Homo sapiens: one gene and its partner. The protein of the gene in region 2 interacts with the protein of the main gene of each other region in a biochemical or structural test. Each region holds a gene or a part of one and is shown on either strand. Other genes may lie near its edges.

Region 1 (3,812 bases), on a different chromosome or scaffold from region 2:
CTGTCAGCCAAGCAAAGAGACCACAGGGCTGGCCCCCTGCTCCGCCTAGTGCAGCCCACGGAGACCGTCACTCACAGACATGCTCAGACAGGTGGGACCCCCGGGACATGCCCTGTACTACCCAGCACTGGGTACCCACATTCCACAGCCTCTCAGCCCTCACTGCCCAGGAACCCCCCAGTCTACCCCTGGTGTGCTCTTGACCCCTGAGCCCAGCCCTGGCTCCTTCCAGGTGGGGCCCAGAGGAGGGGGCTGGGGCTGAGTCACCTCAGGGCCTGCTGGCTTCCCACCCCGGGGGGATGCTGCGTTGGGCAGTGTCCAGGCAGGCCAGGCTCACTCCATCCCTCAGCACACCCCATCCAACCAGCCCCAAGGCCTGGCTAAGCTGGGGAAAACCACACTTCCCCAGCAAGGCCCAACCCCACGCCTGCCAGCCCTTCCCTGGTCCTCACCCGCCGCCCACCCCACGCACGTCCCAGTGCCTCGGCCTCATCCAGCTAAGGACAGGCCTGGCCTCCCAAGATGTCTCAGAAGACTGCACTCCCACGTCCAGCCCCTCCCCTAACCAACGTGCTACCAGCCACACCCAGCCCAGCCTCCAGGACCCCCACCCAGTCCCCCGCCCCACACCTCCGACTGTCCCTCAAATACAGACAACTAGGGCCCAACATGACTGCTGACCCTGGGCCTCACTCACAGCTGGGCAACCCCGGCCCCGCCCCCGAGCCCCTGCCTGCAGAACACCCGGGGACGGCCCGAGGAGGCTCACCCAGGTAGGAGCACAGGATGGAAGTGGGGGGCCATCCCCAACCCGCTCCTAGAACCCTCCCTAGCCACGTCGAGCTGACAACAGACCCTCAATCCCACCTCTTAAGCTCCCCTTAAACCCGTTTTCCCACATCCGCCATGGCCCCGCCAGGCCACGGGGCCCAGTCCCCGCCCATCTCCAGGGCTCCCTGAGGTCACCAGGGCCCGCAAACCTCTGCCTACAGGCGCCAGACAATCCCCAGAGTTCCATCCACATGCCTCCCAAGGCTCCGTCCACACCCCCCGCCGAGCTCTGTTTACACCCCCCAGAGCTCCATCCACACCCCCAAAGAACTCAATCCACATCCCCCAACGGGGTTCCATCCACACCCCCCAACAGGCTCCATCACCTCCCCAGGGCTCCATCCACACCCCGCAACATGCTCCATCCACACCCCCCCAGAGCTCCATCCACACCCCCCCAGGGCTCCATCCACACCCCCCCAGAGTTCCATCCACACACCCCAACATGCTCCGTCCACACCCCCCCCCAGAGCTCTGTCCACACCCCCCAACATGCTCCATCCACACCCCCCAGGGCTCCATCCATACCCCCCAGAGCTCCATCCACACCCCCCGAGTTCCATCCACACCCCCCAACATGCTCCATCCACACACCCCAACATGCTCCATCCACACCCCCCAACAGGGCTCCGTCCACACCCCCCCCAGAGCTCTGTCCACCCCCCCCAACATGCTCCATCCACACCCCCCCAGGGCTCCATCCATACCCCCCCAGAGCTCCATCCACACCCCCCAACATGCTCCATCCATACCCCCCCAGGGCTCCATCCACACCCCCCAGGACTCTGTCCACACCACCCCCAGGACTGTGTCCACACCCCCCAAGGGCTCTGTCCACAAACCACCCCCGTCAGCTCCATCCACACCCCCCAGGGCTCCATCCACACCCCCACCAGGACTCTGTCCACGCCCTCTCAGCTCAGAGCACCCTTGGGGTTCCCAAGGCTCCTGCCCACCCCCACCCACCCACCCCAGCCTATCAACCCATCTGCCTGGAGCACCACCCTCGCAGCTGCACCTGGCCAAGCCCTTCCCCACCCCCGGTAACACCTGGAGCACCCAGCCGCTTCCCAGGCGTCTGGCATTTGGCTCCTTCCTTCGTTCCTTCCTTCCTTCGTTCACATCAAGTGTACAGCAGGCATGCCTCTGCCACCAAGGACGGCAACCTATAGCCAGCGGGGCTCGGGGAAAGCAACAGGGGGCAGGGGCTGTTGTTCCAATAAGGCCAGGCCAACGGGTCACAGTGGCTCACGCCTGTAATCCCAACACTTTAAGAGGCTGAGGCAGGCAGATCACCTGAGGTCAGGAGTTCGAGACTAGTCTGGTCAACACGGTTAATCCTCATCTCTACTAAAAATATAAAAATTAGCCAGCCATGGTGGCAGGTGTCTGTAGTCCCAGCTACTCTGGAGGCTGAGGCAGGAGAATCACCTGAACCCAGGAGGCCGAGGTTGCAGCGAGCCGAGATCGCACCATTGCACTCCAGCCTGGGCAACGAGGGCAAAACTCCATCTCAAAAAAAAAAAAAAAAGGCCAGGCCAGGCTTTGAACAGGTGGCATTGAGATTGAGGCTGCAGGGCATGAGGAAGTGAAGGAGCTGCATGGCAGAGCCCACAAGAAGGCCCAGGGGCTGAGAACGCATAGCCCACGGGGACAGTGGGGTCATACCACAGATCCAGACCCCACCACGGACTTCCTTCCTGAGGCTAAGCGAAGTGGGTGACTGTTGCGGGTCTGAGTGAGGTCTGTTCGGGTGTTGGGGGTCCGAGTGAGGTCTGTTGGGGGTCTGAGTGAGGTCTGTTGGGGGTCTGAGTGAGGTCTGTTGTTGGGGGTCTGAGTGAGGTCTGTTGTTGGGGGTCTGAGTGAGGTCTGTTGTTGGGGGTCTGAGTGAGGACTGGGACCCACCAGGCTTTAACAGTCACTGTAGCCGCTGGACAGGAACCAGCAGGACCAGGAAGCAGCAATAGTGAGGTCAGAGGATGGGGCCAGCATGGGTCTGAGAGCAGCTCTGGCCACGGGGCAGGCAGAGAAAAGCCAGGCCACCCGGTCTCCCGGCACAGCCACACCTGGGCTTCAGGGCCAGCAGGGAGTTCCTCTCGACTCCCAGGAAACCTCATGCCAGCCACTCAGGTAAGATTACTGCCACCTTCGCCTGAGCCCAGGGCTCCGGTTACCTGCTCCCGCAGGGACGTGTGCCTGCCCGCCCGCCGAGAGGGCCTCACCGCCCGCCAGCTGGGGTCCCTACACCTGGATGGCAGGAAGTCATCCAGAGTGAACCTGAGCTGGCTGACGGGGCGGTACCTGCCTCACCCCACCTGCCAGCTCTCCCAGCTCCCCTTCTTCCCTAGGGGCCAGCCTCCAGGACTTATTTGCCTCTTCTGTGAATAACAACCTCTCACCCCCGTCCTTCCAGGACTCAGTTGCCTCCTCTGCGAATAGCAACCTCTCATCCCTGTCCTTCCAGGACTCAGTTGCCTCCTCTGCGAATAGCAACCTCTCACCCCTGTCCTTCCAGGACTCAGTTGCCTCCTCTGCGAATAGCAACCTCTCACCCCTGTCCTTCCTGCCTGGCGGGCCACGATCTGGGACAGGGTTTTGTCAACACCAAACCCCTAGAACACAGGAGGGACTATAGGGCCTGGATTGGGCGGGGGTTGGCGGGCATGTTGCCCTTCTAGGAACGGGGCTGGGACATGTGGGGATGTGGGCCTGGCGCTGGCAGGGGCAATAGGCGATGTGTGGGCTGGGGGTCTGGGGACAGGTGAGAGACCCATCACCTGCCCAGGTTCCCCGGCAAGCAGGGAGAGGAACCCAGGCCCTCCCTCAAGGCCAGCCTAGCAGGGCTATGCCCCTGCCCAGTCTCTGGAGGCCAAGGGGGAAGGGCTTCACCCCTGCAGGCCCAGCTAAGCCTCTCCCTACAAGCCCGGCCTGACCCACCCCCACCGCACAAGCAGACCCGCAGCCCAACTTCATCTCCCACC
Region 2 (3,812 bases):
CCCAATGAAGCCCTGATGATCCAATGTGACTCCAGCCCCCTGTCCATGGTTTATTTGAGTAGGAAAAGATGCCTGGATCAAGCCAGGCCAATGAGATTCTCTCATTACAACACTGAAACACAGACTGTGTGACCTCTGGTCTACAAATGCCCAGTTTCCTATTCTTTTCTCCAAAGCCTTATTATTCAATTGCTTGGAATCTATAAGAGGCTCTGGGTGCTTTCGCTAAGCTCTTTCTGTTTCTTTGTTTTGTTGTTGTTTATTTTTTGTAAATGATGACTTAAACTAGCTCAAGTTGGTCTGTTACTTGAAACACAAAGAAACTTACTTAAAACTTTACTATCATAAAAGCACAGATGAGAGAACGCACTGAAGGTAACTCTGGGTAGTATATCTCACTTTAAGTACCCAGTGAGTGACTACCACAATTTTAGCTGACAAACTGTAAAATATTTCTTCCATCCACTCCCCTATCCAAACACCAAACTACCAACTTAGGCCATATAAGTGGAACAGGAATTCTTACTCTAGAACTTCAGACTCTATTCATAATGCCTCTTTTAATGGATTTTCCACCCAGGTCCCTGATACATGCCAGGTCTTTCTCCACCCATTACAGATCAACATTTTTTTAATGTTGTCTGACCGTTGCTTGCTTTAATTCTCCAAATAACTGCAGGAACATCTTTGGCAGGTTCTGACAGATTCCGGGCCTTCCTTTCCATGCTGCCTACAGATCACTCATATTGACTTCTCACCTTCTCAGTGACAGCTACTTATACCATACCCTCTCTGTCCTCCCCAGAAAACACCTGATATATCCTGGTATAATGATATAATGCCAGAGAAAACAAAGTGCTTGCCAACCCACCACTCACCCAGGTTTCCAGTATGTTTATTATGATGGGAATGATAGCAAAGTCTAAAGCCCCTCGATTCTAAAGACATCCAGTCAATTGCTTGTAAATCTCTCAAATTTCTTTTCCTACTATAATTTCTCATGTCTGAGGAACAGCCCGGAAGCAAATTGCTTTTGGAAGTTTTCACAAAGATCTATTCAGCCCTTTTAGTGAGTTATCTAAATGTGGGGAGGGAAAGGCATTTTCAGCTGTGACGGCATGGGATGTTTTTCGTATGCTTGAGCAATTCAAAAAGGACTTTGTTTTCAAACTTGGCATGTATGAAGCCTTGGGTAAAGACCAGAGCCTTTGACAAATTTGAAGAAATGGATTTGGAAACAGTAAAAGAAAATGAGGGTAGCTAACTACCCTCTCCACCTCTGCTCTCTACATAGGTCATTTTCCTTACATCCAGAATGAGTTCTCAATAAATCACTCCTTTATATTGGCAGGTTTCCTTCTAACAAAGGCACACATTGGTTAATCTTCCACTAATACATTTTCCTTTGATCTGGAACATAGTACATCTCTGTCCACTAACCATAGTTGTGACCATAATCATTCATCTAATAAGTAAAACAGAACCATCCAAACCTGTGAGATGCTGCTGCCTGAGAAAATAATTCCACATCCCCCCAGAAAGGAGCAGCATGTCCTCACGACCAACAAGGAGTCATTCAACCAAGGTCAGAGAACAATGATGAACTCCGAGGATAGGAAATGACAGCTCTGCGTTCTACTTTAGTTACTGTGGTGTGTTGTAAGGTATCTCCTCTTCCTTAGAATCCCCCAAGATGGCTAAGGCCCCACCAGAGACAAGTGACTGAAGAAACATGTCACAATAAAGAGACTGAACTGTGAAAGAGAAAATACATTAAAGGAAGGGAAGAAGGGAAGAAGGAAGGTAGGTAGGAAGGAAGGAAGGAAGGAAGGAAGGAAGGACTGAATTTATTAATCTGGGTGGGGTGGAACTTAAAGAAAAAAAGATAATATAGCCACAAAAAAGAGGGTTTTCAATTTTAAATCATTAATTTTAATTTTTGAAGTGGTATGCCTCTATTTAACAAAACACACACAAACACACACACAAAATCATCAGATTGGCAGAGCTATTGTCTCTGACTTCTCCACTGGCTAGGGCCATTTGCCTTGAGACATTTATGTTTGTGGCTTTGGCTGTGCTTCTCAGAATCAGGACTGTTTTTTAGGTATCTGAGCATATGCCAACAGTCTGAAACATCTGTGTAAACAGATTTGAGAAACAGTGAAAACCCCATACCAAACATAAACAGAGTGGGCTTACCTGACGTGCCTGGCTGGCAGTTGCACTGGTAGCCATTGACCAGGTCAATGCAGCGACCATCGTTCAGGCAAGGGCTGCTGTAACATTCATCAATCTGGTCACTGCAGATGGCGCCCATGTACCCGGGATTGCAGATGCAGGTGTAGGAATCAATACCATCCTGACACTGACCATGGTGGCAAGGATCGGGGTCACAGTTGTCAATGTTCTCCTCACACAACACACCAGTGAAACCTTTGGAAAGAATTTTATCAAGGATTCTCAAAGACCAAGGCAGATATTCCACACCAGAACACAAGTGTAGCTACATCCATTTACTCTACACATTCGATGTGTGGTCAATTAATACTGCAGGTCTTGAGCAGTAGAAAACGACGATCTGCATTGATTTAGAAAGTATGCCTGGAGAGAGGTGCTTAAAATAAAGATTTCCAAATCAAATTTTAGAATTGAAATACCTTCGCAACTGATCAATAATTTCATTGCAGAGATGCTTTAACTGCACCTTCATTTCTTACTAGGCTTCAGGTATAACAGCTCAAAATATTTTTCCTTTATATATTTATCTTTGTATTTCTTTCTTCCCAAGTCCAATATACAGGTTAATGATTTCATGTATCTTATGTCCCCAATTCTGACTTTGGAGGTAAGAGAGCTTTATTTTACTTCTCTCAACTCCTCTGAGAGTAGTATGCATATATAGTAGTTTTAAATAAATACTGGTTGAATAAAATGAATGAACCTGTTATGAGAATTTAAAAGAAAAAGAGACAAGTAAGATTTCCTTTCTTCGAGGTGTAAATAGACAAACATTATATCTTTCCCTAAAAGACTCCAGGAGTCCTCCCCCCACTTTTAAACCTGAGCTAAAGGTTTTTAATCTCTTTGAAACTTATCCTCTACAAGAAGAATCTGGCCAGGGGAAGACAAAATCTGGATTCTCTGACAAGCATTAACTATTTGCAAAAAGAAAGAAAGTGGCTCATCTGAGTTGTCCTAAACTAAGTAGGTCTAATAATTAAAATATTAACTTTTTGTATTAATTTTCACAATTAAATTTGCTTTTCTGTGATCAGAAATAAATTATATGCATGATGCCTTTAATCTTTAAGACTCCATTCTCTAAAATTAATGTCTTGAATTACATAAATAACTTCTTTCTCAAGCAGTCAGATAATAAAGAAGTTCACTTCTAATAATTTCTAGCCTTTCTGTATAATATTTGCCTGTGTAAAAGGAAATGTGTAATAGGGAACATCTGGCTTACTGAAATCCAATCCCAAGTACAAAATGTGATTACAAACCCAGAAATGCAGAATATTTGTGCACAGATCGTTTTTGACTCTAGTTGCAGAAGTCAGCAAAGAGGACCCAAACTTTCCCAGTGAGAGCTCTCTCTCCTGTCATTTACACACTTGACTCTCAATCCTATTTTGGTGTCTTTTATGCAGAATACCCCTGCACTTGTACACATTCAGCCTTTAAATTTCTGGGCCTTCTTTCAGTCACTTGCTTCAAGAAACACAGAGCCAGGCCTCCTGCTGAGAAGCCCCAGTGAAAAATAGCTTTCAACTGGATTTCTTCTCTTTCCTAAATGAGTCAATCTAGCC

Evidence for each region.
Region 1: the proteins of NOTCH2 (region 2) and JAG2 form a complex in vitro, tested with the Homo sapiens proteins (one study listed by BioGRID).

What each region holds. Positions count from the first base shown.
Region 1 is NC_000014.9:105,158,518-105,162,329, forward strand, and holds part of JAG2 (protein jagged-2 isoform a precursor), read right to left. Parts: intron 1-3,812. UniProt on the Homo sapiens protein: Putative Notch ligand involved in the mediation of Notch signaling. Involved in limb development.
Region 2 is NC_000001.11:119,961,372-119,965,183, forward strand, and holds part of NOTCH2 (neurogenic locus notch homolog protein 2 isoform 1 preproprotein), read right to left. Parts: intron 2,437-3,812; coding exon 2,203-2,436; intron 1-2,202. UniProt on the Homo sapiens protein: Functions as a receptor for membrane-bound ligands Jagged-1 (JAG1), Jagged-2 (JAG2) and Delta-1 (DLL1) to regulate cell-fate determination.